7 linked regions of the Homo sapiens genome follow. The protein of the gene in region 1 purifies or fractionates together with the protein of each later gene. This does not show direct contact. Each region holds a gene or a part of one and is shown in the gene's direction. Other genes may lie near its edges. The genes, in order: PODN, FRAS1, DCAF8, LRP5, SPSB3, RCN2 and ZNG1A.

Evidence for each region.
Region 2: the proteins of PODN (region 1) and FRAS1 purify together in Homo sapiens (affinity purification with mass spectrometry; one large-scale study listed by BioGRID and IntAct). This does not show direct contact.
Region 3: the proteins of PODN (region 1) and DCAF8 purify together in Homo sapiens (affinity purification with mass spectrometry; one large-scale study listed by BioGRID and IntAct). This does not show direct contact.
Region 4: the proteins of PODN (region 1) and LRP5 purify together in Homo sapiens (affinity purification with mass spectrometry; 2 studies listed by BioGRID and IntAct, with this or other methods). This does not show direct contact.
Region 5: the proteins of PODN (region 1) and SPSB3 purify together in Homo sapiens (affinity purification with mass spectrometry; 2 studies listed by BioGRID and IntAct, with this or other methods). This does not show direct contact.
Region 6: the proteins of PODN (region 1) and RCN2 purify together in Homo sapiens (affinity purification with mass spectrometry; one large-scale study listed by BioGRID and IntAct). This does not show direct contact.
Region 7: the proteins of PODN (region 1) and ZNG1A purify together in Homo sapiens (affinity purification with mass spectrometry; one large-scale study listed by BioGRID and IntAct). This does not show direct contact.

What each region holds. Positions count from the first base shown.
Region 1 is NC_000001.11:53,060,990-53,065,012, forward strand, and holds the start of PODN (podocan precursor), read left to right. Parts: upstream 1-1,223; 5' UTR 1,224-1,319; intron 1,320-2,380; exon of another isoform or gene 2,381-2,570; intron 2,571-4,023.
Region 2 is NC_000004.12:78,060,323-78,063,822, forward strand, and holds part of FRAS1 (extracellular matrix organizing protein FRAS1 isoform 1 precursor), read left to right. Parts: intron 1-3,500. UniProt on the Homo sapiens protein: Involved in extracellular matrix organization. Required for the regulation of epidermal-basement membrane adhesion responsible for proper organogenesis during embryonic development. Involved in brain organization and function.
Region 3 is NC_000001.11:160,256,050-160,259,549, reverse strand, and holds part of DCAF8 (DDB1- and CUL4-associated factor 8), read left to right. Parts: intron 1-3,500. UniProt on the Homo sapiens protein: May function as a substrate receptor for CUL4-DDB1 E3 ubiquitin-protein ligase complex.
Region 4 is NC_000011.10:68,424,091-68,427,590, forward strand, and holds part of LRP5 (low-density lipoprotein receptor-related protein 5 isoform 1 precursor), read left to right. Parts: intron 1-1,011; coding exon 1,012-1,202; intron 1,203-1,887; coding exon 1,888-2,097; intron 2,098-3,500. UniProt on the Homo sapiens protein: Acts as a coreceptor with members of the frizzled family of seven-transmembrane spanning receptors to transduce signal by Wnt proteins.
Region 5 is NC_000016.10:1,776,212-1,779,571, reverse strand, and holds the end of SPSB3 (SPRY domain-containing SOCS box protein 3), read left to right. Parts: exon of another isoform or gene 1-959; coding exon 960-1,137; coding exon of another isoform or gene 1,138-1,250; coding exon 1,251-1,438; exon of another isoform or gene 1,439-1,523; coding exon 1,524-1,626; exon of another isoform or gene 1,627-1,699; coding exon 1,700-1,825; exon of another isoform or gene 1,826-2,128; coding exon 2,129-2,475; 3' UTR 2,476-2,860; downstream 2,861-3,360. Other genes in the region: structure-specific endonuclease subunit EME2, read right to left, coding at 3,334-3,360.
Region 6 is NC_000015.10:76,938,249-76,941,748, forward strand, and holds part of RCN2 (reticulocalbin-2 isoform a precursor), read left to right. Parts: intron 1-3,388; coding exon of another isoform or gene 3,389-3,442; intron 3,443-3,500.
Region 7 is NC_000009.12:151,557-155,056, reverse strand, and holds part of ZNG1A (zinc-regulated GTPase metalloprotein activator 1A), read left to right. Parts: intron 1-261; coding exon 262-348; intron 349-2,978; coding exon 2,979-3,023; intron 3,024-3,500. UniProt on the Homo sapiens protein: Zinc chaperone that directly transfers zinc cofactor to target metalloproteins, thereby activating them.

The sequences.
Region 1 (4,023 bases):
GGAGAAGGGTAAACCTGGGGTCAAAACCCCAGCTCTGCCAGTGAATGGGCATTTTACTCAGTCAAGTATCCTTTCTGAGGCCATCTCTTTTCTATAAAGTGGGGCAGCAGCAGTTCTTCCTTTGCGGAGTTGTGAAGCAGAGCATAATGCATATGGTATAACCTCACGGGGGCGGCAGCCAGTGAAAAGTCTGGAGCTGCTTTACAGGGGCCATTCATTCATTCATTCATTCAGGTTAAGGTTGAGCAAGGGGTCCCACGTGTGACTTATGCATCCTTCTCCCTCTTCAGTGGGAGGACAGCCAGGTGAGGCAGCTGTGGATGCCCTGCCCACAGGCCAGAGCAGGTAAGGGGAGGAGGCTTGCTACACAGTGGAGGTGCCAAGTACCACCTAAGCCCAGCCGCATTGCCTGTTCCACCGCCGAAGCCCCTGGCGCCAAACAGTGTTGCTTCAGCTGGTAGTAGTTAATACTCCTTTACTTGGAAACATTTTCAGTTCCTGGGAGCAATATGGTGGTGTGAGGTCTCACTGTTCACCCGCCCTGTTTCTCTGTGACTGGGATCTGCATGTCCCCGACTCCGGCCCAATTTACCATTCTTCAAGGCTCACCAGGCTGTGGGCCCAGGGCCAACAGGGATGGGAGTGGAGGGTGGGGTGGAGCGTGGGGAACTTTTCCGGGAAGAGGCCCAGCAGGGTCTTGGCTGGCGGCCCCATTAGCCACGGCCCAGGACCCCAGGGTGGGAGAGTGAACGGAAAGGTACTCGTGCCTGGAGCGGTTGCAACATCCTCTGTAATGAGGAAGATACAGCTCAGAGGCACTGGGTCGAAGGACCCCTCTCCCCAGCCCTCCTTTCAGGTGTCGGGGCCTAAAGGGGGTCCAGTTCCAGTGCGGAAGGCTGGGAACTAGGAAGCGTCGCGGACCAGACAGCCCGCCTTCCCGGTCTCCCGGGTGGGGGTTCGGGGGGCGTGGTGCGGCGGCCGGGGCTGAGAGGGGTCGGTGCGGCGGCTCTGCCTCCCCGGGAAGTGGGAACCGGCCAAGTCCCGAGCGGGGAGGGGCAGGCTTTCTCCTGCCCGCGCCTGGGGGGACCCTACGCCTGTGTCCGAAGGAGGCCGGCGTCCAGCAGATGCTCCCGGGGCGGGTGGGGAGTGGGGGAAGGGGGCGGGAGAGAGGCGGGGAGGAGAAAACCCACAACAAAACTTGCGTCGCGGAGAGCGCCCAGCTTGACTTGAATGGAAGGAGCCCGAGCCCGCGGAGCGCAGCTGAGACTGGGGGAGCGCGTTCGGCCTGTGGGGCGCCGCTCGGCGCCGGGGCGCAGCAGGTACAGGGCGCTGGCAGCCGGGGTGGGCCGAGGGGCCGGGGGCTGAGCCCGGGCAGCGCACTCAGACGTCCCCGCCTCTCCGGATGGCTCCAGCAGCTGCCTGGGGCGGGCCCGCCGCATCTCACCCCCTCTGTAGGACCCTGCACCCAGGGCACGGCCGGAGATCTCCTCCTCTGGAGTGCGACCCCTGCGCAGTCAGGACCCAGGCAGGGGCCTTCTCCTCTCTGAGCAGAGGCTGGTCCCCGTCCCCAGGCCCCTCCCGCTGCGCACATCTGGAAAGAATCTGAGGGCGGTTGGGGGCGGGGGCTGGAGTGGGAGGACGCCGGCGGGCGACAGGGAATGTGGGGGGCAGGTGGAACTGCGTAGGGGCGGGGACCCCTGTCATGAGAGCCTGGGCCCGAAGTATCCCCGCGTCTTTCCACGTCAACTCATCAGGCCCCCTAGCGACTCCAACCTCCACCTCTTTATAGATAGAGAAACTGAGGCCCAGAGAGGGGCAGAGGTCTGGCCCCAGGGCGCGTCGGACGCCGGGTGGGTCCCCTCCGGGGCTCGGCTTCCCCGGCCACTGTGCCGCCCCAGCTTAGTGCCAACCACTAGTTGAGCTAAAGGTCTCAGCTGGCGGTCTGGAGTCCGTCTATCTGTCTACGCGGCTGCTTCCCAGCCGGGACAGCTGGAGGGAGGAAGGGGTGGGGGTCCGCGAAGCGCGAGGAGCGAGATCCGCGCCTTCCTGCGAATGAGGCAGAAGCCCCAGGTTCCAGGTCCCCGAGCCACAGCCCGGCCTGGGGCGGGGGACGAGATCTTGGCGTTGGAATACCTGACGCTCCGTCAGGTGGAAGAGGAGGTGGTGGCGGGGCTGCGAGGCTCCTGGCAGCCTCGGGGGCTGGGGCTAGGAGAGGCAGCCGCAGCCTTTTGGAGAGGAGCAGGCGCGGCAGCAAGGGGCGAGCACCCCGGCCCCGGTGCGCGCGGCACTGACTGAGCTGGTCCGGGAGGCGCGGAGGATGCTCACCCAGCGCTTGGAGTGAATTACTGACCTGTCTGCCCTTCGATTACCGGCTGGCCAGGGAAGGGGAAGCTGTGGTCTGCCCTGCTCCACGAGGCGCCACTGGTGTGAACCGGGAGAGCCCCTGGGTGGTCCCGTCCCCTATCCCTCCTTTATATAGAAACCTTCCACACTGGGAAGGCAGCGGCGAGGCAGGAGGGCTCATGGTGAGCAAGGAGGCCGGCTGATCTGCAGGCGCACAGCATTCCGAGGTAGGTCACTCAGAAGAGCCCGTGGACTGCCCTGGGAAAGACCAGGGGGGACTGCTCTGGGGGTTCTGCTCCCTCATGTCCACTCTTAGGGCCCAAGACCCAGTCTACTCTAGCCTAGAGTGCAAGTTAAGAAATGTCAGAGTCACACGACTGTTTTCATGTCATCTGTGGGAGCACACTTTATCCCTTCTGTCTGAGTCTAGGATAGGGGATTACTAATGGTGGCACTTTTAGGCTTGGTGTAGTCATACATGCGAGTGCTGGCCGTGTCCTGCTTGGAACCCTTAATGAGTCCCTATCACCAACACTAGCATGGCGGTGGAGGCCCTTGGCCACCCAGGCCTCCCGCCCTGTTGACCCTTCCTTAAACACACGTCCCTCTCCTCTAGCCCCACCCCTACCTTTTGATCACACTCTACCTCTGCCTGGAGGGCTGTTTCTCCCACTCCGTCCACTTGGAGAACTCCCGCTCAGTCTTCAAGGCCAACTCAAGGCTCTGGGCAGGAGTCAGAAGACCCACATTTTACTCTTGGCCTTGGCTTTAACACACTAATTTGCAAACTGGGGGAGTCAGAGCAGATCATACTGCAGATCTTTAGATCTTTTCCAACTCTGCCTTTCACAAAGTCGTTCATTCAGCAAACATTTCCCCAGCACCCCCACTCCATGCTTGGGGAGACAGGGGAGGCCCAGCTGAGACTTGAAGGATAAAGCCAGCCAAGGTTGCTGTGGAAGCACCCAGAAACACCCTAACCCAGCCAAGGGGGCAGGAGAGGCTTCCCTGAGCAGGGGCATTTCAGCAGGAGCTTTCTAGGGATGGGCAGCAATGCCAGCCCTTTGTGCTTGAGCTCCAAATCTGCAGAATAGAAAGACGAACATGTAGTCCCAGGATTTCTATTAGAGTCAATAAGATGCAGCTGTTTGGGGCCCAGCACAGAGCAGGTGGTCAGTTGATTTGTACTGACTTTGAGTGGAGAAGGAAGGTAGTGCTGAGGGCTGAGGATCCGCCTCTTGATTTGGGGCTCCCTTTCCCTTCCTTCTTCTAGTCCTACCTTAACCTCACACTTTGGGCCTTGAGGTTTGGTTCCCTGGTAGTGGTCAGGGGAGACAGTGGGTCCCACTTACTTTCTCAGTAACAGTAACCCCTGGTATGTCACACCTATTTGATGCCAGCGGTGACAGGCTGAGACTGCTATTTCATTTAATTCTCACAAGTAGCTCCCAACTCCATTTCTTAGACTAGTTAACAGAGGCTCGGAGCAGTAAAGTGGCTCATCCAGGCTTACACAGCAGTCAGAATTGGAACCCATGCCCTTCTGTCTCTAAAGCTCTCCATATGAGAAACACTCACTGCTGGCTGAGCTTCCCCGCTGTCCAGGGGTTTGAGATGTTCCTCACCAGGTGGACTTGAAACTCCTGGAGACCAGGGAGCTCCCCTGTTCTTCCCCACACA
Region 2 (3,500 bases), on another chromosome or scaffold:
TTATCAGCCTAGAGAATAATTTTTAAAAATAGAAAAGAGACATTCACATGTATACTTCTTTTGATGGGATGTACCTTGTGACACCTTTGCTGACCAGCTTATGGCAGAATTTGTCGTTTTCTTCTCAGTGCACAGAGAGAACAATTGTGGTTGGTATGGGTTTGGTCTTCCTCACTTAGCTGTGTGCTTATTGAGGGGTTAGGATGGCTCCTATTAATTCTGATATCTTCAGTTCAGCTCCTAGTATACACTAAGTGCTCAAAAAATTGGTCAGATGAACAGTATTGCCAAATTATATTATTTTGAATTAAGCTTAACTGGTGGACTGGCCTCTGATTAGCTCACTAACCTTGAATGAACCATCTAACCTCTTTGCGCTATAGTTCTGTCATTTACTAAATGAGGTACATTACGTGATAGCTCTAAGATACTTTGGCTAATCATCAAACATAGAAGAAAAAGAGATCAGTATTTGCTGCATTATTAGTGGTCAATTGCAATTTTCTGGTTCTAAATTTTATTATTTTTATTATTTTTTTTTTGAGGCACAGTCTTGCTCTATCACCCAGGCTAGAGTGCAGTGGTGCAATCTCAGCTCATTGCTGCCTCTGCCCCCTGGCCTCAAGCGATTCTCATGTCTCACCCTCCTGAGTAGCTGGGATTACAGATGTGCGCCACCATGCCCAGCCAATTTTCACATTTTTAGTAGAGACAGAGTTTCACCATGTTGGCCAGGCTGGTCTTGAACTGCTGACCTCAAGTGAACTGCCTGCCTTGGCCTTTTAAAGTGCTAGGATTACAGGTGTGAGCCACTGTGCCTGGCCTCTAAATTTTATCAAAAGAAATATCAAAAGAAAAATAAATTTTTACAAGCAAATTATTGGCAGTGTTATTTTATATGGCCTTATATTGCTAAACTGGTAAAGTATTAATGCTATGACTTGAGAACTTAATAAAATCAAGAAGTCACAAAGAAGCTTCTAACATGGCTGCTTTCTGAATCACAGAAACTCTACCATGGCTTTTTCTGGAGAAATATCTTGAGTTCTGTTGACATATGGAAGTCCTGTGAAGTTACAGTAGATAAGACAGTTGCCTTGGGATAGGGAAACATCATTGAATTGGAGGTTAAGAGAATTGAGCTTTAGTCTGTGTCCCATCACTCTCCATGTGATTTTAGCCATTCCCACAAACGCTGAATCCCGGGTTTTTCCTATAAATGCTATTTAACAGGTTACATTGAAGAGGCTCATTTGATAGACAATATGTTTTATTTATGGGTGAGTTAGGGTAGTTGCACTCTGGGCTGCAGAGTTGTTTCACTGAGAGACTCTATGCTTGAAACTCAATAACTCAATGTTGGGAAGAGAAGAACTTGGCTGGAAAAAAGTAACCTAATTCTTTTATTCTGCAAGCCTTTATTGAGAGGTTCTGTGTCAGGTTATGTCCAGTAGGTGGGTACAGACATCAAAACCAAAGCCAAAAAAACCTCCTGCGCTCAAGGAGTTTGCATATCTAGAAATCATTAATGTCAGTTGAATAGCAGTAGGGATATGGGAACATTTGGTCCTTGGTGGGTTTCTCAGTATGGAAACGTTAGATGATGGTTGTAACTTTGCATCCTTTGGCTTTTGTAATTACCTGGCAATGGAAATAAAGAGGTGTTGTTGTGGACTCTTATTTTCATCAATTATATTTCCATTGCCCTCTGAAGATTGGATTCTGGGCATTACTCTCCTTATATAGTGTACATCCTTTAGTAAGGACCCAGCCATCCGTATTCACTGTTATGGACTTGGGTGGCAATGTCACCCAACTGTACTCACACAAGTAGTCATAAAATATTCTTTAACACATGGCTCAGAGTAGGGGAGGGGACTACCACATGTCAAAGTTGGAGCCTCATGCCAAATCTTACCGTAGTTCCAAAACAGTTGGCCCACTTTCATTTTAACTACTCTATTAATTGATCTAAATCCTAGTTGACAATAATCAGGACATGAGCTGTCCTGTCAGTTCAGAAAATGATTCTATTTTAAGTATTCCACAGTGCACACAGCCATATGCTGAATTATAACACAACATAAAGCCTGAACATTTAAATGCCAACTTGTGGCTGCTTGTTCCTAATGAGTCATGTTCTTGTGGTACCATGCTCTCCAAATCTTTTTGTATCTTAATGGTTGTATCTGCCACTATTTCTTTGAACTAATGGGTCTGACATTTTGTGGTGCTTGGATTTAACTTCTCTAATTTACTCAGTTTACCAACGGTTTCAGAATATATGCAAATTATATCTCAAAATTTCTCCAAAAATACTAGATTTTATACAGTCATCTCATAAAGGCGTATATTATAATGTGCAAAAGGGATTAAAAACAGACATTTACTTGTTTAAATTTTATGCAGTAACGTTTTTTCTGTGTGACCTGCAAGAAATGAGCCAGCCACACAGTAAAAGAGCAGCTCAGGTCTCAGGATCTGGGCTTCCTTCTTGACACTATAAAATTACTTCACCCTGCAAAACTTTATGCTCTTTCTCACAGGTTGTGAGGTGTTAGAACTTAAATTACCTGGCATCTCAGCTGCATTCTGTGCCTTGAAATTGGCATTGTTCATAGTTAGAGAACTACTCCTGTTGTCTCCGGTTTTTCCTCAGTTTTCCTTTGAGGGAGGCTCATTTCTTCTTCTAGATCAGCACTCTCTCACAGAATTCACCTTGAGCTGGAATTTTCTTTAAAGTTCCCTGCCATAAATATAAACGTCAAATAGACCTGCAATCATTCTTGTACTCCTGAAGAAAAAAAAATAATGAGTCGAGAGATGAATTTTGTTTTCCATATTATGTGAACTGACGGATTAGTGAAAAGACCTCCACTCTGGCTTTCAACCAGAAGCTACACCCAGTACCCATGTCAACAAACCCCTCAACTTCATCTGCTGGTGGGTGTGTGAGAGAAATATGCTTCCTTTGGATGCTGCATCTGGTATTGGGTGATGATAAATGTTTGATAGAACTGGGCATCACACTGGAATGCTTTTTTTCTCAAGAGAGTAGAAATGAGGTTTTGGAAGCTGTGTTAATGGAGGCTCATTCATGCAGCTGCCTTCCAGGTAGAACTGTTCTGTTTTAGGAAAGCTCTCAGAGGGCAAAGCTTATTTCTTTTGGAATTGTACAATACAAAGCAACCCAAATTGAATTAATTCCTTTTCCTAATGATATAATTTTTCAGCAGCTCTACACCATTTTGGCTTGAGTCTCCAGCAGATGCATGGCTTGCCCAGGTATAGATGTGGTGCCACACTCAGTGCTACTTTATTTTTTTCATACTGCAGTGAGTTTATCATGGCTATCTAAACTTCCAAAAATAGGTTTTGATATGGGTACTCAGATACTTCTTAAGGTGCTTGATTTCCTTTGGAGCTTTGAAAAGAAATTGACTTTGGAAGGTAATGCTGTGGAGAGCAATAAAATTATTTGAGGATAGTCTTATTTTAAA
Region 3 (3,500 bases), about 110 Mb from region 1:
TTGTTTGTTTGTTTGTTTTTTGACGAGTCTTGCTCTGTCACCAGGCTGGGGTGCTGTGGCGCGATCTCAGCCCACTGCAACCTCCGACTCCCTGGTTCAAGCGATTCTCCTGCCTCAACCTCCCGAGTAGCTGGGATTACAGGCATGCGCCACCATGCCCAGCTAATTTTTGTATTTTTAGTAGAGGAGGGGTTTCACCATGTTGGCCAGGGTGGTCTCAATCTCCTGACCTTGTGATCTGCCCGCCTCAGCCTCCCAAAGTGCTAGGATTACAGGTGTGAACCACCATGCCCGGCCAAAGAGTTCTTTTTTCAGCTCCACAGCTGGACCGTCTTAATAATATGACAGCACAGATGAAGAGTTTTAAACCTTTTGTTGGCTTTTCTTTCGTATCTTTTTGGCAAGGGCACATGAAAATTAAGTACTGATAATATCACAATGAAAGCAGCTGTGTCATTCAGACCAGTGACCATTTTAGGTTTGATGAACTTTTCATTACCATCATCCAGGGTCTAAATTCTCCATTGTAAGGTAAGGATTCTCCAGGGTGGTGGTGAGGTGGGTTGAGATTGCATTTGTATCATTTGTGTTTTTATGAACTCTGAAGATCCATGTCGGGTGAAGGAAAGGATGGGAGGAGAAAAGGAAATACTTTGAAAGAGGGATAACTTGGACTGTTTATTTCCTTATGTGCTGGGTAAGAATGTCCAGGTGACATCTATATGTAGTAAATCAGTATTTCTAGTCTGTGGACCACACTGTAAACTTTTTATCTTTCTAAAGTTTTTTTTATTTTTGTAGAGATAGGGTCTCACTTTGTTGCCTAGGCTGGTCTCAAACTCCTGGGCTCAAGTGATCTTCCCACCTCAGCTGAGTAGCTGGGACCGCAGGGGCATATCACCATACCTAGCTAATTTTTGGTTGTTTTTTTTTTGTTTGTTTGTTTTTTTAAAGAGATGAGGTCTTACTTGCCCGGCTCAAGTGATGCTCCCATCTTGGCCTCCCAAAGTGCTGGGATTACAGGCATAGCCGCAGCACCCAGCTTGAAGATATTTTTATATTTCCAGGGTTTTAGGTGTTTACTTAAGAATTGTGACATCTTATTAGGTAGTATTTCCTAGGATGATTAGAGTGGGAGGCTAAGAATGCTTGTGACCTTTTAGTTCCCACCACCAACCTCTTAAAGTGCAGTCTATTTATTTATTTTTGAAATAGGATCTCACTCTGTCACCTAGAGTGCAGTGGCACTATCATGGCTCACTGCAACCTCGACCTCTTGGGCTTAGGTGATTCTCCCATCTCAGCCTCTCGAGTAGCTGGGACTACAGGTGCACGCCACCGTACCTGGCTAATTTTTGTATTTTTTGTAAAGATGAGGTTTCACCATATTGCCCAGGCTGGTTTCAAACCCCTGGGCTCAAGCAATCCTCCTGCCTCAGCCTCCCAGAGTGCTGGGATTACAGGCGTGAGCCACTGCACCCTGCTAAATGCAGTCAATTAAATGTATAAGAATCTGCCAGGCTGAGTGCGGCTGGCTCATGGCTGTAATCCCAGCACTTTTGGGAGGCCAAGGTGGGAGGATCACTTGATCCTAGTTGTTCAAGTCCAGCCTAGGCAATATTGAGACCTTGTCTCTACAAAAAGTTTAAAAAAAAAGCCAAGCATGGGGCAAGTACTTGCAGTCCCATCTCCTTGGGAGGCTGAGGTGGGAGGATTGTTTGAGTCCAGGAGGTAGAGCTGAGATTGCGCAGTGATCACTGCAGTGCGCTGAGATTGCGCCTCTGCAGTTTAGTATGGGCAACAGAGCGAGACCTAGTCTCAAAAAAAAGAATCAGTTCCAGTGCCATGGTCCTTAGTGTGGAGTAGGACCAACCTAAGACAGAAGCTTGTCTACAGAGAGCTGAAAGAAAGCAGCCTCTTTGTTGCCAGTTTAAAACAATACTGGCATTTTAAAAGCAAACAGATTCTAGTAGGAGACATTGTATAGAAGCGCACCCTGTTGTGAAAGACTGGGATCTTGAGTTTCGTGCTCTAAGTCTTGTATTCTATCAGGGGAGTAATAGGCTTTTAAAATCATAAAGTGACTATTAAAATGCTTTCAGTAGATAGATTCATTACTCCATTATTTCTACTGTATAAAAGTTTATTCTAAACATGTCTAGGAAATATCCAGATTATAAAAGAGAAATAACGGTATCCAAACCAGACTTTTTATTGCATAACATTGGTGTTAGAGTTAGTTTTTAAGTCTCTGAGATTGAATTAGCTTTTTTTTTTTTTAAAGCAGATTATCAGTGAGCTAAGATAATCTGCTGTTTACCCTCACCTATTTGGAACACAGGCAACTGAATTAATTGAATCAGCAATAGGCATGGGGTAGTGACTTTGTATATTTTCATTTTAGAGCCAAAAGCCAGTGAGTTTTAGATTAGCTTTATAGTAATATTAAAAACTTCATCTTTTATTTTTACAAATGTAGCCAAGAAACATCATTGCTGTTAAAATCAGTCAGAAAAGGAGGCTACTTGCTCTTTATTGATTTAGTCATTCTGCTCTTGGAGTGAGTAGAAAGTCTTTGAAAGCTTTTCAAAAATTAGCGAGTGATGAATTTTATGAATTAGTCACTTCTTTGCAGCAGTTTTTTTTTATCTCTACCTCTGTAGGACATAGTTCCTGGGCCAGAAGCCAGATTTCTCAAGTACCATCTAACCCCAGGAATGTGTTATGATACAGATAAATTAATGAACGGAGGCTGCCTTGAGGTTGCCAATAGGGCATTGGGGAGTAATTAATATGACAAAGATGTCATCTTATTAATGAAATGTATTAATAGTATGTCTAGTGGATTGGGTCAATGCAAACATTTTAGATTAGATATTTGCTGTTTATCCTCTGAAGTTACTGTTTAAGGAAGTCTGGCCAAGTTCTAAAGTGAAGCATACATATTTGCCTCACGTGCCATTTTTTTTTTTCTTCCTGGCTTTTTCTTAGCCATCTGGAAAGCTACTATAGGGTTTACCTCTAATGGTAGTCAAGTTACTGTATTCCTCTGGTGTACTTTAATGATTGCCACATTACCAGGTATGTTTTGTTAACCTTACTTAGAATCCAACATTAGACCCTTTCTTCTAACCTAACCTGTAGGAAGGCACTTCTTGAGGTTTTAAGCCTCTCTTTAATGTTTTATTGTAAGTTGTACCTTGGGAGCATCATTTTTTCATCTTAAATCCTCTCCAGTTTAAGAAAAATTTGAAATATAAATGGCAAAAACTGTTAATGGCAACAGACTTCTGATGTAAATGTAAATTGAGATGGAAACAAAATGAAAAGTAGATTTCCCTAGGAATTAGTTAAACTGAGATAAATGGTCCTGGATGTTTTTATAGAAAGTTCTCTTAGCCAGGTGCAGTGGCATGTACCTGTAATCCCAACTACTCGGGGGGCTGAGTTGGGAGGACTGCTTGAGCCCAGGAGTTTCAGGCTGGCAACATAGCAAGACC
Region 4 (3,500 bases), on another chromosome or scaffold:
TCCCACCTGTTGGTCGTCAGAGCTTCTGGTTGGTGGGAAGGCACCCAGGACCTTGAGGTCTCCAGAGAGAAAAGCCAGGGAAAGAGGGAGACCGAAACCCATGTGACATGAAACTCAGGCTCCAAACTGAGCACGGGAACGTTTGGGGACAGGAGCGCGATGGCCTTCCTCAGATAGCTGGGGGGCTGGCATGAAGACGGGAGCTACAGCCAGCACAGGTCCTGGGCCGGGAGCCCAGAGATTGAGCCCTGACTCTGTCACTTACTGGCCACGTGACCTTGGGCGGGTGGCATAGCCTCTTGGAGACTCAGTTTCCTCATTGGTAGGAGTGACGGCCACAGTGGTGCGGCCTCTGCAGCACACGGGGGGCTCGGTGGGCGGAAGCCCCGGGTCTATAAGGCGGCTGTGCAGGAGCCAGCCGAGCTGGTCTCCCAACAGCCAGGGCTCCGGGGTCCTTAGCAGCTGTGGGGGGCCTGCACCTGTTTCCCATGGCTGCTGTCAGAAATTACCAGAAGCCAGGTGGCTGAGAGTAATGGACACTTGTTCTCTCACAGTTCCTGAGGGCTGAAGCCCGAGATCGAGGTGTGGGCAGGGCCCTGCGCCCTCTGAAGGCTCTGAGGGAACCTTTGGGCTTCTGGTGGCTCCAGGCACCCCTTGACTTGTGGTCCTGTCACTCCAGTCTCTCTGTCTGGCTGCACATGGCGTGGCCTCTTCTGTACCATTGAAGGACACTTCAGTTGGATTTAGGGCCTACCCTCACCCATTGTGGTCGTATCTTGATCCTTCATGACATTTGTAAAGACCCTGCTTCCAAATAAGCTCACATTCTGAGGTTCTGGGGTGAGCGGGAATTTGGAGAGCATTGTTCAACTAGTATAGAATGTGACCTGTCAGCCTCGGGCAGCCCTGAGAGGCAGGGGCTTTCCACAGCCCAGCTGGGTGCCCTGGGCTCCGTGCTGTCCGAGGAGACGCCATCCCCACACCCGTCCTTCACCCGCCACCCTCCCGCAGGTACCTGTACTTCACCAACATGCAGGACCGGGCAGCCAAGATCGAACGCGCAGCCCTGGACGGCACCGAGCGCGAGGTCCTCTTCACCACCGGCCTCATCCGCCCTGTGGCCCTGGTGGTGGACAACACACTGGGCAAGCTGTTCTGGGTGGACGCGGACCTGAAGCGCATTGAGAGCTGTGACCTGTCAGGTACGCGCCCCGGGGCCTGCCCTAACCGCAGACACCCGGCCTTCATTGTCAGTAATGGCAGCAGCTGCCACATTGTCCGAGACCTGCCGTGAGCCCAGTGCCGCGCCAGGGGCTTTGTGTGTAGCGTGTTTTGTCCTCACACTGACAGCTGTAGGCTGGGGTTCTGAGTGAGCCCCACAGGGCAGAGGCAGAAAATGAGTCTCAGAGAGGGTGAGCGAGCTGCTTGGGGCCCCACAGCAGGAGATGGAGCAGGACTGCAGCCTAGCCTCTGCCCCCAGCACCTGCGCAAGAAGCTGCTCTGCTCTGGACTGTGTTAGGCTGCGAGGGCTGGAGAGAAATGAGAGTTGGTGCTTAGAGAGGGGGCGCAGGTCCCCATGGCTTTTCCTCTTATGATGAGGTAGATGGGTGAAGGGAGGGGCCATGCTTGCAGGGGCCAGTGACCGAGGCCCGCCGTTGGAACTGATGGCCTTCATCCCGAGCCCAGCCCAGGTGGGAGCAGGGCTTTCCGAGGGCTTGTCTTGGGTCGGCCTGCTTCCAGGGACTCTGCTGCAGCTCCCACCCCTGTCCAAAGCATGGAATCCCCCAGGCTCCCTGGCAGTCCTGTCAACCTCTGTCCTCCCAAGCTGAGTGTGGGGCAAGTTCTGGAGGTCAGCACTGCTCAGGGGGGCCCACGGGCTGCTTGCAGGGGCCAACCGCCTGACCCTGGAGGACGCCAACATCGTGCAGCCTCTGGGCCTGACCATCCTTGGCAAGCATCTCTACTGGATCGACCGCCAGCAGCAGATGATCGAGCGTGTGGAGAAGACCACCGGGGACAAGCGGACTCGCATCCAGGGCCGTGTCGCCCACCTCACTGGCATCCATGCAGTGGAGGAAGTCAGCCTGGAGGAGTTCTGTACGTGGGGGCTGGCAGTGGGGTGGGCAGGGTGGCCTCTAAACCCGACCCCTGGAGGAGGCTGGAGGCCAGTGCAAGATCCTGTGTGGCCTCAGCCAGGCGGTGGTCTCTGCCAGATGCCAACTGTTGCCCGCTGGGGTTCAGCGACATGTCCGAATGTCCCGAGGCCTCTGAGGTTGTTTTCTTTTGCCGCAGAACAAATCACCACGAACAGCGTTTTAAGACAACACCAACTCTTTTTTTTTTTTTTTTTTTGAGTCAGGATCTTGCTCTGTTGCCCAGGCTGGGGTGCCCTGGTGCAAACACAGTTCACTGCAGCCTCGACCTCTGGGCTTAATTAAGTGAACACCTTGCCTCAGCCTCCCAGGTAGCTGGGACTACAGGTGGGCACCACCACACCTGGCTAATTTTTTTTTGTAGAGACGGGGTTTCCCCATGTTGCCCAGGCTGGTCTGCAACTCCTGGGCACAAGCTATCTGCCTGCTGTGGCCTCCCAAAGTGCTAGGATTATAGGTGTGAGCCACTGGCCTGACAACACCCACGGATTGTCTCTCAGTTCTGTAAGGCAAAGTCCAGGCACAGCGTGGCTCACCTGGGTTCTCTGCTCAGGGTCTCACGGGGCCAGAATCAAGGTGTCAGGAACGCTGGGCCCTCAGCGGAGGCTCTGTGGAGAAATTAGCTTCCTTGCTCACTCAGCAGGTAGCAGTTGTGGGATCGAGGTTCTGTTTTCTCTCTGGTTATTGGTCGGGGACCACTCTCAGCTCCTAGAGGCCACCACAGGTCCTTGCCCCGTGGCCCTCTCTGCCTCAGCAGTGGGGGCTCCCTGCGTCAGTCCCTCCCACACCTTGAGTCTCTCTGATTTGCTTCTAAAGGGCCCTGTGATTCGGCTCAGCCACCTTTAGATTAGGTTAGCCTCCCCTTTGATAGACTCCAAGTCGGCTGATTAATAACCTTAATCACATCTGCAGAATCCCTTCTGCCACATAAGGTCATGACGCCGTGCTGGGGACTGGGGTGGGAAATTACGGGGTCATTTAGGATTCTGCCTGCCACTGCCTTGCTGTGTCCCAGGGCTTGGGGGAGGGGCCTCCACAGCTGGGACCACAGTCCTTCCTCCCCTCCATGGTAACCATCTGAGGATTACTTGAGACCAGCCTGGGCAACATGGTGAGAACCCATCCCTACAAAAAATACAAACAAAAAGGGACCAGGCTGGGCTTGGTGGCTCATGCCTATAATCCCAGCACTTTGGGAGACCAAGGTGGGCTGATCACTTGAGGTTGGGAGTTCGAGACCAGCCTGCCCAACATAGTGAAATCCCGTCTCTACTAAAAATACAAAAATTAGCTGGGTGTGGTGGCAGGCGCCTGTATTCCCAGCTACTGGGGAGGCTGAGGTGGGAG
Region 5 (3,360 bases), on another chromosome or scaffold:
CTGCCTTGTCTGTGGGGTGGGGCCATCCCCTCCAGAAAGGACAGTGTCCTGCCCTGAAGCTGGCTTTCGATAGGTCCACGTTCACCTGGAAGCTGGTGGCGCCCATGTCATGGTCCCCTGTGGCTTCTCCTGGGGATCACATCATCTCTCTGGACCAGCCCTCAACCCTCACTGTCACAAGGCCTCTGCCACAGGCCCCCCGCCACCACTTAGCACTCTCCCTGCTGACCCCCTGGTCCATTCAGCCCCTGGGTGGCCCCCACACAGTCTGTGACAGGGAGGAGGCTGGGAGGGGCACTGCCTCCCACAAGGAGCTCACGTTCTGGTGGGAGGAGGCCAAGAATCAGGACCAAGGAGAACTTCAGTGAAGCAAAAGAAGAAAAATGGAACAGGGGTGAAGGGGCTGGAGAAGCCTCAGGGAGGTGACAGCTGAAACCTGCACCAGGAGGGGCGGGGCCTGTAGTGGGCACTGGGCAGTAGGACCCTGTGGTGAGCCAGGTCTGCTCAGGTAACAGGAAGGTCGTTGGGCCACAGTGTGGTGGGGACTGCCCTGAGGCCGGGTGGCTGCAGCTGGGCCTGGTGTGGGGGTGGTGGCCTTGCCTGGGGGCCCCTGCAGGGCTGGCCTAGCAGGGAAGGTGTCCACACCATCTCAGCTCTGGGCAGGTGGGGTGGACCTGGGGCTTATCCACCGTCTAGAAACCACTTGGAGGCCAGGCAGCCTTGGCTACTGCTCTGTGGCTGGGCCTCCAGGGCCCTCCTGGTCATGCAGAATGGGGCAGAGCCGGAGCCCGTTGGGAGGGAGCCTGGGCTGTGCGCTCGGGGTACTGTGAAGTCCCTGGAGGCCTGGACCCCCATCCTTTCCTGGGTGGGTCAGGGACAGGGTGGGACAGGGACAGAGGGCAAGGGTGAGAGGGTAGAGAGCGGGCAACAGGTAGTAACAGCCGGCCCTTCTCTCCCAGCACAGCGACTCGGACTCCGACCCCGAGTACTCCACGCTGCCGCCATCCATCCCCAGTGCGGTGCCCGTGACCGGCGAGTCCTTCTGTGACTGTGCTGGGCAGAGCGAGGCCTCCTTCTGTAGCAGCCTGCACTCGGCCCACCGGGGCAGGGACTGCCGCTGCGGAGAGGAAGACGAGTGTGAGCGTGGGGCCCAGCCCCTGCTGGGACTGCACTGCGGGCGGGCCTGGGGGTGGGCAGGGCAGAGCCCCATGGAGCTCTCAGGGCTGCCCCAGCCTGGGCCTCTCTTGCAGATTTCGACTGGGTCTGGGATGACTTAAATAAGTCATCAGCCACCCTGCTGAGCTGTGACAACCGTAAGGTCAGCTTCCACATGGAGTACAGCTGCGGCACAGCGGCCATCCGGGGCACCAAGGAGCTGGGGGAGGGCCAGCACTTCTGGGAGATCAAGATGACCTCTCCCGTCTACGGCACCGACATGGTAAGTTGCTTCGGCCCAGGGTGCTTCTGGGGAACCTGGCTCCGGCAGCCCAGCCCCGCGCCCTCTGCCTGGCCCCTGTTCCTAGATGGTGGGCATCGGGACGTCGGATGTGGACCTGGACAAATACCGCCACACGTTCTGCAGCCTGCTGGGCAGGGATGAGGACAGCTGGGGCCTCTCCTACACGGGTGCGTGAGGCCCAGGGTGGGGCGGGGCCGAGCCTGGAGCTCCCGGGCTCACTGCGACCCTGGCTGCCCCCAGGCCTCCTCCACCACAAGGGCGACAAGACCAGCTTCTCATCGCGGTTCGGCCAGGGCTCCATCATTGGCGTGCACCTGGACACCTGGCACGGCACACTCACCTTTTTCAAGAACAGGAAGTGTATAGGTGAGGCCGTCACAGGACTTGAGCTCCTCTCAGCTGTCACCCCGAGGGAGGCAGCCACCCCGCCCCAGCCCAGGGGACACTGAGGTTTTCTGAAAGGGTTCCTCCCAGAAGCCTGAGGCCCCAGGGTCCCAGGGGGTGGGACAGTGAGGCCAGGCTGGAGTGGCAGGGCCAGCGCGTGCACCCTGCCTTGCCTCAGCTGTGCCAGCTGCCCACCCGGGTGACTGTAGCGTGAGGTCTGAGGGGCTGCGCCCAGTAGCTGGCCCCTTCCCTGCCTGGGGTTCAGGCTGGGCCCCTCCCTTCCAGGTGTGGCAGCCACCAAGCTGCAGAACAAGAGATTCTACCCGATGGTGTGCTCCACGGCGGCCCGGAGCAGCATGAAGGTCACCCGCTCCTGTGCCAGCGCCACTTCCCTCCAGTACCTGTGCTGCCACCGCCTGCGCCAGCTGCGGCCAGACTCGGGAGACACGCTGGAGGGTCTGCCGCTGCCGCCGGGCCTCAAGCAGGTGCTACACAACAAGCTGGGCTGGGTCCTGAGCATGAGTTGCAGCCGCCGCAAGGCTCCAGTGTCCGATCCCCAGGCAGCGACCTCCGCCCACCCCAGCAGTCGCGAGCCTCGGCCCTGCCAGAGGAAGCGCTGCCGCCGGACCTGACTGACTTCCCAGTGGAACTGCCTTCTTGGGCTGGGACAGCCCCTTTCCTCTGTCCCTTCTTTCTCTGTCCCTTCCTTCCAGCCACACTCCAGGGCGGAGTTGGATGAGGCCCGTCCGGAGGGAGCCATCTCTTGCTCCCGAGGCTGGGACAGTCCTTTCTGTGGGGGCTCTAGGGCCCCTCTGCTGCTGTGCTGGGTGGGGAAGCGGCTGCCCTGAGCCCCAGGTCTTGTGGGAGGCTGCGAGGACGAGAGCCTGGCTGGAGCCCGCGTTGCTGTTCCCACAGGGCCTCGGTTTTTCCTAACTTGCTCTGCATGCTGTCAGCGGCTGCCCCGCCGTCATAGACTTAAAGGACTGCAATAAATGTAGAGTTGATGTCTAACACCCACATGGCGTGAGCTGAAACGTATCCGTGCAGAGGCCGGGCTTGCGAGCAGCCTGGGCCTTCTCCCAGGCCTCACTGCCCCTCCACATCCTTGGGAGTCCCCTACTGCTTCTGGCTGAGGGTGCCACACCCCAAGCCTCCAGGTGGCAGTGGGGCCCTGGAGCTGCCTTCTGGTCCCTGCCGAGTGTGTGTGTGTGTTGGGGGGGCACAGCCCTGCTGCTGAGGCCTCCCCTGGGGCCTACGTGTTCAGGACTCAGCACAGGAACCGCCAGCCATCTGCCAGCCAGAAGCCCCTCTTCTCCCAGCTACCTAAAACTTCCCCTGCAACCACCCACCCTTCCCCTGAGGTCAGACCTGCTCAGCCAGAGAACCCACCCAGGCTGAGGGTCCACATGTGGCTGGGGGTCCTCCCCCACCGCCCAGGGTGTCTGGTCTGTCCCCAAGGCTGCATGCTGTCCTGGTGGTCCCACGTGTGGTCAGGAGCCCAGGTCCAGCAGGAGATC
Region 6 (3,500 bases), on another chromosome or scaffold:
TTATTGTATTAAACAATATAGTGTAACAATGATTTACTCCTCATTTAAATTGTAATTTGTCTTATAAGTAATCTAGAAATGATTTAAAATATTTGGGAAGATATGTGTAGGTTATATGCAAATGCTATGCCACTTTATATCAGGGAATTGAGTATCCTTGGGTTTTGGTATCTGTGGGAGGTTCTGGAACCAATTTCTCACAAATATGGAGGGAGGAGTGCATAACAAATTTACTATTGTAACCATTTTAAAGTGTACCATTCAGTAGTGTTAAGTACATTCACAGTGTTGTGCAGCTAATCCCCAGAACTCTTTTCATCTTGGAAAGCTGAAACTCTGTACCTGTTAAACAACACCCCATTCCCTCCTTGGTAAATGCTTTCTAAGTGTGCTATTTATTTAGAATCATATTGGCCGCTTGAACTCTGTAAGCCACCACTAACTCTAAGTTGGTTAATTCTCTGCTAATAACTACAGCATCAATGTGGAGGTTTGGGGCTCCATCCTCAGAGCCAGTCTGCTTAGCTTCACATTTAGCTCCAGCACTTCACGGTTGTGTAACTTTGGGCAAGTTATTAAACTTTCATGTGCCTCAGTTTCCTCATCTCCAAAAATGAGGATAATAATTCCCATTCAGGCCAGGTGTGGTGGCTCACACCTGTAATCTCAGCACTTTGGGAAGCCAAGGTGGGAGAATCACTTGAGCCCAGAGTTCGAGAACAACTGGGCAATGTGGCAAGACCCCGTCCCTATGGATACATTTTCCTCTTAAAAATTAAATCCTAACTAATCTAAAGCTGTCTAGTTAACAAATGCCCAAACAAAATTTAAAAATTAGATGGGCATGATGGTCCGTCCTGTGATCCCAGCTATTTGGGAGGCTGAGGCAGGAAGATTGCTCGAGCCCAGGCAGTCAAGGCTGCGGTGAGCCATATTTATGCCACTACACTGCAGCCTGGGCAACAGAGAGACCTCATTTCTAAAAATAAATAAATAAATAAATAAATAAATAAATAAATAAATAAATAAAAATTTCCTCTTTAGGATTATAATAGTGTGGATAAATATTAATAAATGGTAGCAGTTGGAGGGGCAAGCAGTTCTGTTTTGATTTAAAAGAATATTGAAGAAAGCATTTACAGTTCACATAAATTTATATTTAATCAACTTTTTAAAACTTTATGCATTTGTTAACTATCAGCTTTAGATTAGTTAGGATTTTATTTTTTAAGGGGAAAATGTATCTTTTGTTTTCTTTTTATTTGGGTCTTCATTCTACAGTGGACTAAAGTGAGTAAAAATCAGTCTTTTTACTGCTTGTAAATACTAAAGGAAAAACAAGTAGTGATAATGAGATTTGGGATCATCTGTCTATTAAGTATCCCCATTTACTATAGGAATTAACTTATCTTAAACCAATGTAACTTATCTAAAACCAAAGCATGGTGTGGTGTGGTTTCCCTTCCTAGGAACAACAGAGAAGTTAAATACAGTATTTTAAAATCTTGCTGGAATTAGATTCTAATTATGTTTTCTATTTTTATTTTTTGTTACTCAAAAGACTTAATTACTATCCCATTAAAAAATAAGAAGTGCATGTTCCTGTATTCTTAGAAGGGGGTGATGTAATAGATGGTGCTGAGAAGAAAATCTTCACTTTGAAGAGATACATGACTCATAAATTGTTTATGAACAGTTCTTTTAAAAGGTGTCTGGTTCTAATTCTGTGTTCTCCACCAGCTACTTAGAATGTGTTGATTATAACACTCTGCTTTTAAAGGATGAATTAGATGAATCTTAACAGCCTAAAGGAATAGATTGATCCCGAAAATGAACACTTCAATGGGAGTCCTTTTGGTTATTTTTTTTTTTGACAGCCTAGGAATATGTCTCTATCTTCATGAAGTTCTAATCATATGTTTTTAGAATTTGCTATAAGTAACTTCCTGTGTGTATGTGTAGTCCCAGCTGCTCAGGAGGCTGAAGTAGGAGGATTGCTTGAGCCCAGGAATTTGAGGCCAGTCTGGACAACATAGTGAAACCTTGTCCCTTTAAAAAAAAAAAATAACGTCCTAAAAATTGATGTGGAGTGTAAAGATGAACCCAGAAACCATATGCATTATTTTTCTAAATAAAAAATAACGGATGAGGAATGAATCAATCTCAAAGTTATAGACTAAACACTATACCATAAATAAAATAATCATAAAAAGTAATTGGATATGTGAATAAAATAAAGTTTTCTATAAGAAAGTCTGTTATAACTGACGAAAGTCAGCTTAATATCTGAACTTCACCTTTTTTTTTTTTTTTTTTTTGAGAGGGAGTGTCGCTCTGTCACCCAGGCTGGAGTGCAGTGGTGCAATCTCGGCTCACTGCAGTCTTAGCCTCCCAGATTCAAGCAATTCTCCTGCCTCAGCCTCCTGAGTAGCTGGGACTATAGGCACGTGCCACCATACCTGGCTGATTTTTGTTTTTGTTTTTGTTTTTTTTAGTAGAGACTGAGTTTCACCACGTTGGTCAGGCTGGTCTCAAACTCCTGACCTCAAGTGATCCACCTGCCTTGGCCTCCCAAAGTGCTGAGATTACATGCGTGAACCACCATGCCCAGTCTGAATTTTATCTTATATTTAATAAGTTTTCATATAGGGAATAAAGATAACCCTTTCAGGCTGTGAAATGCCTGAAGAAGCATTTCTTTATAATATAAAGAACAGTTATGGTCAACACAGGATAATTAAAGTTTGGGGATCTATCTGGCAAAAGTTCAAGTGTTCTTTGTTTTTGTTTTTGTTTTTGTTTTGAGACGGAGTCTTGCTCTGTCACCCACGCTGGAGTGCAGTGGGGCAATCTTGGCTCACTGCAACCTCTTCCTCCCAGGTTCAAGCAATCGTCCTGCCTCAGCCTCCCAAGTAGCTGGGACTACAGGCGTGTGCCACTATGCCCAGCTAATTTTTTAGTAGAGATGGGGTTTCACCATGTTGGCCAGGCTGGTCACGAACTCCTGACCTCAGGTGATCTGCCCACCTCGGCCTCCCAAAGTGCTGGGATTACAGGCGTGACTGCTGAATGTGCATGTATAAGCAGTATTTATTTATGTAAGATATAACCTTGCATGTGGCTAATCAGAATTTTTAATGCCTAGTCATTTGTTCTAGTATCACACATTATATATTTCCTCATGTAGAATCATTAGTCTACCAAAAGATGGCAGTTTTGTTCCTCACAAGTTTCTGTTGTAATCTAAAAATAAATGATTATGGTAGCTTTTTTATTACTGTACCTAACACTTTTTACCCTCTACTAGAATACAAAGTTTTTATATACAAGAAAAAAAAAGAGTGTTGAAGTTTTATGAAACTGACCATCTTTTTTGTTATTTTTTTAGGAATTTGCCATTTGTAAAAAACAGTCTTTCTGTTTTTGGCTTCTTCGATTTAATGTGAGCTATTCTTATTTTGTGTTCTTCAAATGGCCGTGAAATGTGAACCAGAAAAAGC
Region 7 (3,500 bases), on another chromosome or scaffold:
TAGTAAATACTTTGCGAATGGGTAATGTGAAATCTGAACTTGCATAGTAATGAACACAATTCATCCACATTGAAAAATTAGCGGATTAGGAGTAAACTGAGTCACTCCTATAGAGCACTAGATAATTCTTAACTGATATATTGATCTACATGAGGCGTTTTTATTTATTTTTGATTTGTTAACATTCCTCTTTTGATGTATTAATCTGCATGCGTGTATATTATTTAAAGTTTCTTAACATTTCTCTGTTTGCTATTTTAGACAAGTTGCTTTGGCAGATGCCATTCTCATTAATAAAACAGACCTGGTTCCAGAAGAAGATGTAAAGAAATTAAGAACGACAATTAGGTACGAAATGATAAGTGTGTTAAGTGCCTACAGATCCATGTTGTATACACAGAATATTTTTTACTCTGATTGTTGCCCTGTAGAAACTTAAGGTATAAGGTTGAGCTGCTTCAAGAACGTTAGGGAATCACATATATTGTTGATGGCTAATTGTTATATAAATGGTAATACATAAAATTAGTCCCCAGTGCTTGCAGAATATAGTTCACAGTTAATAGACTGATATTCAGGGTCTTCGCACTCCATCTTTCTTTTCCTGTCTTCTCTTTGACTCTTTCCTAATGTCAGTCTTCCCTAACTTTACCCAGGATGGTTAATTCACTTTCCCATGGATGCATCCTGTCAGTTCCTGTCTTTACTCGTAATGTATTCTCACTCTGCCAATCCCTGAGTTCTTTCTTGTTCTGCTTTTTTTTTTTTTAATTTATTCTATAGAGCCTATTCTGTCTCTCCCCCCTTCCTATGTGAAGTCTTCCCTGACTCAAGTGGTCTCAGTTTTCCCTGAACTCTTGTTGACTTCATCTTCCTTAACTGTCAACCATGCCTTGTCTTCCAGCTTGCTTTAATATCTTCTTTGTCCATAGCCAAGGCTGATCAGCATAGGACAATCAGGACAATATGAATGATGCTCAAATATGTGCTAACAGTCATTTTGCTGACTGTTCTGGAGACTCCCATTCCTTTTGAAAACAAAGATGGGCTTTTCAAATGAGGTTATAGTTCAGGGGCTTTGTTTTGAATTATTTTGTAAGACCTGAACTAATAAAAGCCCTATACAGAGAGACATTCGGTAGCTATTAGTATTGGTTATCTTTAATGTGTACAATGCTTTGAGCGTGATGGCTCAAAATTACTATTCTTAGTATTTATAAGTTCTACTGACATTAGATTTTGAATCTGTCATCTCAGTTCATATAGTATATATTATCAATTGAATCAATAAAGGTAAGGCTCATTAGGAGATTATTTGCCATGATTAATGATTGTGGAAGAAAGAAATTCATATTTTTTCCACATATTTCATCTTATTTTAATAGTAATGTCCTTAAACTTTACTATAAAAAAATATAATGTCTCCACGTGGAGGGTAGGTATTGTTGCGTAGTGTTGAAGATCACAGACCTTGGAATCTGCTTGGGTTCTAATCCTTGGTCTGTTTCTCATTGTCTTCTTAGGGAGCTTATTTACCCTTTTAAAGCCTCCTCTGTAAAAGGCATAATGCCTATCATAAGTTTGCTTTGAGTATTACATGAGACAATGTTGGTAAACTTTGCACAGTGCTGACACATAGTAAGTGCTCTGTTAGCTATTATTATGTAATTTTTTTCTTAGCTTACATAGTAAGTTCAAGGTATAGTAAAAAAGGGAAGAAAGAAAAAGATGGCTGATTTTGAAAAGGAGAAAGTGATGAATGAAGATTGCTTTTACATTTTTTGACACTGGTCTTCTAATCTTGTTTCTCTTCATAAATCTTGTGCACCATTGTGATTGCTAAGAAGAACACAATCTATTTAGCAAATGTTTTTGGCATAAAAGGAATGATAATTATTACTTGACTTTTATATCCTTATAGAGACCTAAGCTAAATCTCTGACACTGACAATATTGACTATTAGCCAGCTTGTTAACAGTACTAGAAATGAATTTGGAAGAAGCAATTTGATAAATTACACACCCTTTTGGCTTTTACCCTCCCTTTATATCAGACTTGTGACTGACTCAGAATGATATTTGGGGAGGTGAAAAAAGGTAAACATGTTTGAGAGGAATTAGCCATCAGACTAGAGTGTATTCAAAAAAGAAGATTTAAGAATTTTGTAAAATAGTGGAGAGACTTGCCTCAGAATCATTATATGTGGGAAGCCTTACCCATGAGAACAAACTTGAACAAGTAGCAAGAATCTTGGGTAAGTAACCCTAAAGACAATTGAATTCATGATAGAGAATTGATGATTGATGATAGGCAATGGAAAAGATAAATAGATGAGGTGTACAGTGTGTTGAAAAGAATTTAACAGGTACTTTTTGGTGCCATACGAAGCCATATTCTATAGTATCAAAAGAGGGAGAACAGGCATAACGGGTAGAGAGCCTAATTAGGTAACTGACGAGGTTATTCTATAAAGGAACCTGGGATGTGTGACTTAGAATTACTGTGAATACTAAGGACAGGCTGGGGGCAAAGCAACTTGCAACTAGGTTTTTATTTTTAGTGTGTATATAGCCATTTCTACCATGTATGCCTGAGGAAAAAAGTGACCACCGTAAAAATTTTGAGTATCTACTCATTTTTAAGAACACTAGGATAACTGACTATTTATGAATGATTTTTTCTAAAGTGAAGTGTCTTTTTATTAACCACAAAGTAGCCCTTAATCTGACAGTTGTGCGAATTTTTGCATATATGTTTTATTAATGTATGAGTGGAATATATGTGATTTATTGTTTGAAGGAAAATCACAATTATTTTTTAAAGCAAGTTTTGTTTTTCTGTTTTTAATTTTTTTCTGGTTCCAGATGTATTTGGGTATGCTTATTTCCTGTTTTAGAAACAATATACTTTGTATACTTTTTTAAAAAGTTAATTTTTACTTTTAAACTTTGTCTTCCTCATTTATTATTTATTTCAGATCCATAAATGGACTAGGACAAATCTTAGAAACACAAAGATCAAGGTACTTTAAAAAAGCTATTCCTATTAATAACAAATCATTTTAGTTATTAATAATAAACATTAAATAATTGACAAATATGCTTGATTCTAATATAAGAAAGATCTAAGTGCATTTAAAAAGAATTGGATCCAAAATGTTGTTTGGAATGCTCTTAATAAGTTAGTTTGGCATATTTGGCTAGTACATTTGCCTGTCTTCAAAACTAAGAATACAAAGCCATGATAACACTGTGTAAGTGTTTGCTTAATGAGGAAGAAAAGACTTCCAAACACTCGAGAGGGTAACTCAGTACAGAAATCTGAAGTATATTGAGGAATCTTAATTTGAAGTGTTTAAATGGCTTTTTAATATTTAAAAAGCCTTCTTAGTGTTTTATAGTTGCCAAAAAATACATGGAGTCTTTACCTTGAAGTTCCTGACAAATTCTTTTATTAAATTTTGACTTTCATTTTCTCTAGGTTCTGTTCCTAAAACATC